2 linked regions of the Homo sapiens genome follow. The protein of the gene in region 1 purifies or fractionates together with the protein of each later gene. This does not show direct contact. Each region holds a gene or a part of one and is shown in the gene's direction. Other genes may lie near its edges. The genes, in order: ZSCAN23 and SCAND3.

The links.
Region 2: the proteins of ZSCAN23 (region 1) and SCAND3 purify together in Homo sapiens (affinity purification with mass spectrometry; one large-scale study listed by BioGRID and IntAct). This does not show direct contact.

What each region holds. Positions count from the first base shown.
Region 1 is NC_000006.12:28,433,411-28,437,235, reverse strand, and holds part of ZSCAN23 (zinc finger and SCAN domain-containing protein 23), read left to right. Parts: intron 1-892; 5' UTR 893-969; coding exon 970-1,377; intron 1,378-1,628; coding exon 1,629-1,776; intron 1,777-2,157; coding exon 2,158-2,771; 3' UTR 2,772-3,825. UniProt on the Homo sapiens protein: May be involved in transcriptional regulation.
Region 2 is NC_000006.12:28,570,163-28,573,987, reverse strand, and holds the end of SCAND3 (SCAN domain-containing protein 3), read left to right. Parts: intron 1-160; coding exon 161-2,077; 3' UTR 2,078-3,453; downstream 3,454-3,825.

The sequences.
Region 1 (3,825 bases):
TCTACTCCTGTTTTAAAGTACTGGAACCAATATTTCCGTCATTTTAGTATCTCTGAGCCTAGACCACTGCAGTCAACTACTTTCTGATTCTTTTGCCTTAGCCTTAAACCACTAGGATATTCATTTAATCATACAATAACATAAGAAAAATAAGTGTTACCACTTTGGAGTTTACTAAGTAGCCAACTTCTTTGTGCTCATTATCCTCGTTTTATCTTTGTATCAACCTAGAAAGATAGGCAGTGTTGGTTTTAGGATTCCTGTTTTATAGATTGAAGAGACCAAGGCTCAAAACATGAAGCCCAAGACTCTGGAGGGAATACCTGCAGGTTGATGTCTCAGTCCAAGACCTTACACACTTTAAACCTAGATCTCCCTCCTCCATACCTCCTATGGCTGGAGGGACTCTACCTTCTATGGCTGGAGGGACTCTGCCTCCTCTCTCCAAGTGCATTTCTTACGGTTCTTATTCTTTTTATATTCTTTACTTTCCCTCCATCCTCCATTTGTTTCCCTTTTCTTCTTGATTCTTGGTGTCATCTGTGACCACTTGGGCCCAAAGTGTTTTTTTACCTTCATACAGCTAAAATTTACCCTGAATTTAGTATCTTGCTATTCAAATGGAAACCCAATATACTCAAGCTGATTTGAGCTGTTTCGGTCAGGATGATTGAAACAGTACCTTCCTTCAGAAAACTGTAGGCGTTTTTGTTCCATTTCTTTTTTCTTCCTATATTATCTGGATTTGTATTTCTAAAGTATCTATCATTAATCAGGTTTTGGTGTTCCTTCATGAGACAGAGTGACTGATTTTAGTGTAAATACTCCAGTCCCTCCTTGTCCTGAGGTTTTCTGCATTTTTATATTTTTTTCTTCGTAAATTATTGTCTAGATCTCGGGGTTTCCAGAAGAAAAGATCAAGGGAGAATTATCAAGAATAGATTATTTTTCTGAATAGTTAAACCTTTGATGGCCATAACCTTGACCCTTCAGACTGCAGAGATGCAGGAAGGACTTCTGGCAGTGAAGGTAAAGGAGGAAGAGGAGGAACATTCCTGTGGGCCAGAATCAGGCCTGTCAAGAAATAACCCTCATACCAGAGAGATCTTTCGTAGACGCTTCAGGCAGTTCTGCTATCAGGAGTCCCCTGGGCCCCGGGAGGCTCTTCAAAGACTCCAGGAGCTCTGCCATCAGTGGCTGAGACCAGAGATGCACACCAAGGAGCAGATCCTAGAGCTGCTGGTGCTGGAGCAGTTCCTGACTATCCTGCCTGAGGAGCTCCAGGCCTGGGTCAGACAGCACCGTCCTGTGAGTGGAGAGGAGGCAGTGACTGTGCTGGAGGATTTGGAGAGAGAGCTGGATGACCCAGGAGAGCAGGTGAGAAGATGGGAGAACAGGGATTTGTACCTATAAGAACAAGTATGGGGTTTCAGTGCAACAAGAAAAGGTAGAGGAGGAGGATTTTTTTTTTATGCCAGACTTGATCTTCTGTAGGCTTTTAGTCTCTCTGCCTCTGTTTTTTCTTTGCCAGCTTCTTGGTCCTTCTTTTCTATCCAGCGGCCCTGAGGAGGCCTCCTTGCCATGTTCTCTCTGATATTGGGTTCCCAACTGTCCTTGATTTCCACCAGGTCCTGAGCCATGCTCATGAACAGGAAGAGTTTGTAAAGGAGAAGGCAACTCCAGGAGCAGCTCAGGAGTCATCAAATGACCAATTCCAAACCTTGGAAGAGCAACTTGGGTATAATTTGCGAGAGGTGTGCCCAGTTCAAGAGATTGGTGAGGATCAGGATTTCCTCAGACAGCCTACCTCATTCCCTGAATATTTATCAATTCAACCCATTTATTTAGTGTCTGCTGTATGCCAGGCACTGTGCCAGGTACCAGGGATACAGTGATAAACAAGGCAGATGTGGTCCCCACTCTCACGAAGTTTACAGTCTAGTGGGAGAGGCAGACAATTAAGTAAGCAGTTATAATACCATGCATCTTTTCCCTGAGGTCTGGGTATAATAGCTTTAGAGTGGAAAAATAAACAGAAAAAGTGGCTACTTGTCCCCTTCCACCCATTCTCCTGGCCACTTTTTTTCTTTTGTCTTTGGAAAGATAATCTGTTATTTTTCATACTTCATGTTATCTTTCATGTTATCGTTATTTTAGATGGCAAGGCTGGGACTTGGAATGTGGAGTTAGCCCCAAAGAGGGAGATTTCTCAGGAAGTGAAATCTCTTATACAAGTTCTTGGAAAACAGAATGGTAATATTACTCAGATTCCTGAGTATGGAGATACCTGTGACCGTGAGGGCAGATTGGAAAAGCAAAGGGTGAGCTCTTCAGTGGAGAGACCCTATATCTGTAGTGAATGTGGAAAAAGCTTCACCCAGAATTCCATCCTTATCGAGCACCAGAGAACACACACAGGTGAGAAGCCTTATGAATGTGATGAGTGTGGGCGGGCCTTCAGCCAGAGGTCAGGCCTATTCCAGCACCAGAGACTCCACACTGGGGAGAAGCGCTACCAGTGCAGTGTTTGTGGCAAAGCCTTCAGCCAGAATGCCGGGCTTTTCCATCACCTCAGAATTCACACTGGGGAGAAGCCTTACCAGTGCAATCAGTGCAATAAGAGTTTTAGTCGACGTTCAGTCCTCATTAAGCATCAGAGAATTCACACTGGAGAGAGACCTTATGAATGTGAAGAATGTGGCAAGAACTTCATTTACCATTGCAACCTAATCCAGCATCGGAAAGTCCACCCAGTGGCTGAATCAAGCTAGCTCCTTGGAACAGGTAGGGGATAATATTTCTTACTTTGTCCCTGCTGTGTCCTCTAGCATAGAAAAGTTCAAGGGAAAGCCAGTAAAAATTCCCTTACTTTTATGCAGAGAGAAGCATAATATCTTAAATACATCTGCCGAGTTCTCTGATCAGTGACATCCACAGCTTTGCAATACTGAATGTTGCCTCTTGTGTTGATTTCATCATGTATGCTGTAGACCTAGTTTCACACACATCTGTGCAAGAAGTTTTCTATTTCAGGAAAACTTCTTCATCCTAGTTTTTAAAAACTTTTTTTAAAAGTTTAAAATAGTTATATGTAGGCTGAGTACAAAATAATCTCAAATGCAGTTCACCGAGTATTTAAAAATTAACTTAAAAATAATTGTAATAAAATTCATAATATAGGTTTCCTGACTTCTTTCCATTCACATAAAATATGATAATTTGTTTTGTAACCTACAAAAAGGGGCAGATGAATCCTCCTATATAAATGTAGATTTATAGTAAGTTAGATTTCTATAGATTTTTTAGTTAGCCTTTAGGAACCAAGGAACTGAAGCAGCCATATGTTATTAGCAGCTCAGTGGCTCCTCATAACAAATATTGCTCATGATTTTAAATTTACGCAGAGGCTAAGAAACTTAGCTAAAAATCTGATATCTCACCTCAGATTTCTTATTGGAAAATACAGGCCTCTTTGTATTTTTCCCGTAACATATAATGAGCATTTTTTTGTTTTTGCCTTTTTCTCCTTTATTCAATATTTTGTATGGAAAATTTGAAACATATTCAAGATTGAAGAGAAGAGTATGATCACTCTTTCATGTTGATTGTTTTTATAACCTCCACATTTTCTCAGCATTTACTATTGATTACCACCAAGATCATAAATAAAAAAATTTATTTCCCTTAACATTGACTTAGTAACTCTTTACAAAGCTTTACACAAGGTCCAGGAGACAAAGAAATGGAAAACCTATGGTGAAAACAATCTGGTTTGGAATACACCCAAATACCCAATACATAGCAAGTAACTTTAGAATAACAGAA
Region 2 (3,825 bases), 140 kb from region 1:
ATAAAACTCTGAGAAAATATAGGCATTTATTTATTTTTATAACTTAACTTTAAAATAATTTTTTATTTTAATCAAATCTAGTTTTTAACTTGTGGTATAACACTGTTAGCTGAAGGAGGAAAGTAAAATTCATATTATTTACTTTTATTCCTAATTTCAGATGGCGAAACAAGCTTCACTGGACTTTTTTGTCAAGAAAAGACATGCCTTTTCTGAACACAGTAGTAGTAATAAAAGAAATGTTAACAATAGAAGTTATCCTGAAGAAGGGAAAACCAAAAGAGTTCATGCTAGTTTCACTCGGAAATATGATCCTTCATATATTGAGTTTGGTTTTGTAGCTGTAATTGATGGTGAAGTACTAAAACCACAGTGTATTATTTGTGGAGATGTACTGGCTAATGAAGCAATGAAACCATCAAAACTTAAGCGACATTTATATTCAAAACATAAAGAAATAAGTTCACAACCAAAAGAATTCTTTGAAAGAAAGAGTAGTGAATTGAAAAGCCAACCAAAGCAGGTGTTCAACGTTTCTCATATAAACATTAGTGCTTTGCGGGCTTCATATAAAGTAGCACTTCCGGTTGCCAAGTCTAAAACACCATACACAATTGCTGAGACACTAGTGAAAGACTGCATCAAAGAAGTTTGCTTGGAAATGTTGGGTGAATCTGCAGCAAAGAAGGTAGCTCAGGTACCACTTTCCAATGACACCATAGCTCGACGTATTCAGGAACTGGCTAATGATATGGAAGATCAACTCATAGAACAAATAAAACTAGCAAAGTATTTTTCATTGCAACTTGATGAATGCAGAGATATTGCTAACATGATAATTCTTTTAGTCTATGTGAGGTTTGAACATGATGATGATATAAAGGAAGAGTTCTTTTTTTCAGCCTCTTTGCCTACAAACACAACTAGCTCAGAACTGTATGAAGCTGTAAAGAATTATATTGTTAACAAATGTGGTTTGGAATTTAAATTTTGTGTAGGAGTATGTTCTGATGGTGCAGCTTCAATGACAGGAAAACATTCTGAAGTGGTAACCCAGATTAAGGAACTTGCGCCAGAATGTAAAACAACACATTGCTTCATTCATCGAGAAAGTCTTGCCATGAAAAAAATATCAGCTGAACTAAATAGTGTACTTAATGATATAGTAAAAATTGTGAATTATATAAAATCTAATTCATTGAATTCAAGATTATTCTCTTTATTATGTGATAATATGGAAGCTGATCATAAGCAACTGTTACTGCATGCTGAGATACGGTGGTTATCACGGGGAAAAGTTCTGTCAAGAATGTTTGAAATACGAAATGAACTCTTAGTGTTTCTGCAAGGCAAGAAACCCATGTGGTCCCAACTTTTTAAAGATGTGAATTGGACAGCCAGACTTGCTTATTTGTCTGATATCTTCAGTATTTTTAATGATCTTAATGCTTCTATGCAAGGGAAGAATGCAACTTATTTTTCAATGGCAGATAAAGTTGAAGGACAAAAACAGAAGTTAGAAGCTTGGAAAAACAGAATTTCTACAGATTGTTATGACATGTTTCATAATTTAACAACAATTATCAATGAAGTAGGTAATGATCTTGATATTGCACATCTGCGAAAAGTTATCAGTGAACATCTTACAAATTTGTTAGAATGTTTTGAATTTTATTTTCCATCAAAAGAAGATCCACGCATAGGAAATTTGTGGATCCAAAATCCATTTCTTTCATCAAAAGATAACTTAAATTTAACTGTAACTCTACAGGATAAGTTGTTGAAGCTGGCTACCGACGAAGGATTGAAAATCAGTTTTGAAAATACAGCATCACTTCCTTCATTTTGGATAAAAGCTAAAAATGACTATCCTGAGCTTGCTGAGATTGCTTTAAAATTGCTGCTTCTTTTCCCCTCAACATACCTCTGTGAGACCGGATTCTCTACTTTAAGTGTTATTAAAACAAAACATAGAAACAGTTTAAATATACATTATCCCCTGAGGGTAGCATTGTCATCAATCCAACCTAGATTAGACAAATTAACAAGCAAGAAGCAAGCTCACTTATCACATTAAAAGCTTTAAATATTGATATGTAAGGTATTGGTTCAAAGTATGCATATAAGCATTGAGTGTGAGGAATTTGCTATTTCACTTTAAACTTTCTGTCTAGTTACAGTTATGGAAGTATGAGAAGTTATGAGTGAAACAGCAATTTTCTATATAAATTGCCTATATGTATATTTTCAATTAAGAATGTGTACAGTTTTTATAATTCTATTTTTCCTCATATTTGTCGTATTTATTAAAATATAATTTTAAATCTGTTGATTCTAATATTAAAACATTTGATCTTATATTTTGTGTCTTCTTCTTGTATTTCATTAGCATGTTAAGATTGTAGGACAACTTCAGGATGGGAGATGGTTTCTTTGAAATAGACAAGGTCAGTGAAAGGAAGTGAATTCAAAGGGGTAGGCTTAGAATTCAAATGCAGGGGACAGGTCAGTAGGGTATGAAGTTTGTTAAACTGATCCAGAGTGGTTAGGTTGGAAGTTGATGTTGTTTGTTTTGTAGGTGCATGTTTAGACAAAGATGGAAGGGAACACTTATTTTGTAATGGTGTTATGGCCTTGGATTCATATTGATAAATTTATTTACTTATTTATTTTTGAGGCAGGGTCTTGCTCTGTTGCCCAGGCTGGAGTGCATTGGTGCAATCTCTGCTCACTGCAACCTGTACCTCCTGGGTTCAAGTGATTCTCTTGCCTCAGTCTTCCGAGTAACTGAGATTACAGGCACCCACCACCATGCCTGGCTAATTTTTGTATTTATAGTAGAGATGGGGTTTCACCATGTTGGCCAGGCTCATCTTGAACTCCTGACATCAGATGACCCTCCCACCTCGGCCTCTCAAAGTGCTGGGATTACAGGCGTGACCTGCTGCGCCCGGCCGATAAATTCTGATTTCATAAGGATGGGCGATTGGGCCATACTGACAAGTTTATGTTAGGTGGTTTCTAGATTTTGCTAGAACTGATTGCCTTTAAGGTGCTCTGGGACAAAGTCAGAAATTATTGGCACCTCAATTAGATTTAACAACCTCTATTTTGTTTGGAGATGATTCAGAAAAATGCCACAAATATCTGCTCTTGTGTCTGTGAACTCATTTAGAATAATCGAAAGCAAATTAGTCCGATAAAACAGGTTCTTTAGCATCAAAACATGACAGAATCCATGAAGAAAATATCTTTTCCTAGACAGGGTAGCAATTTACAGTAAGTGCTTCGTTTCAAATAAATGTGATATTCAAAGTTAAGGAAAGGAAGGCTATTTAGTGATTCAGAATGTTACTAATAATTTAACCTTTTGGTAATGGAAGTTTCAAGGATCCTCCAAACCTTTGAAAGTAGAGGAAAGGTTCATATTTAGTCCTGAAACCTTAATTGGATTATGTTTTATTGTGTGTTTGTTTTAATCTTACAGCTTTTCAAAAACAAAAAACCTTATCATGGTGGATAGATTTAGAAGACAGTGGTTTAATTTCTCCCACTGACAAATTATATGCCCTCTTTCTTATCTGACCATATTCTAGAACTAAGGGATTTTAAAATGTTTTACAGTTTGTTTTATTGATTGAATAAAGTATTGTGTTTCCCATTTTTAATTTCAAAAGGCAATGTGGTGATTTTATATTTATTTCTATAAAAACTTAAAGTAGTCTGGAAGAAATTAAGAGGGAATTAAGAGTACATATTAAAAGAGAACTAAATTCCCTTACTTTCTCTCTAAGAAATATAAAGTATTAGATGTTTGAGATTGGT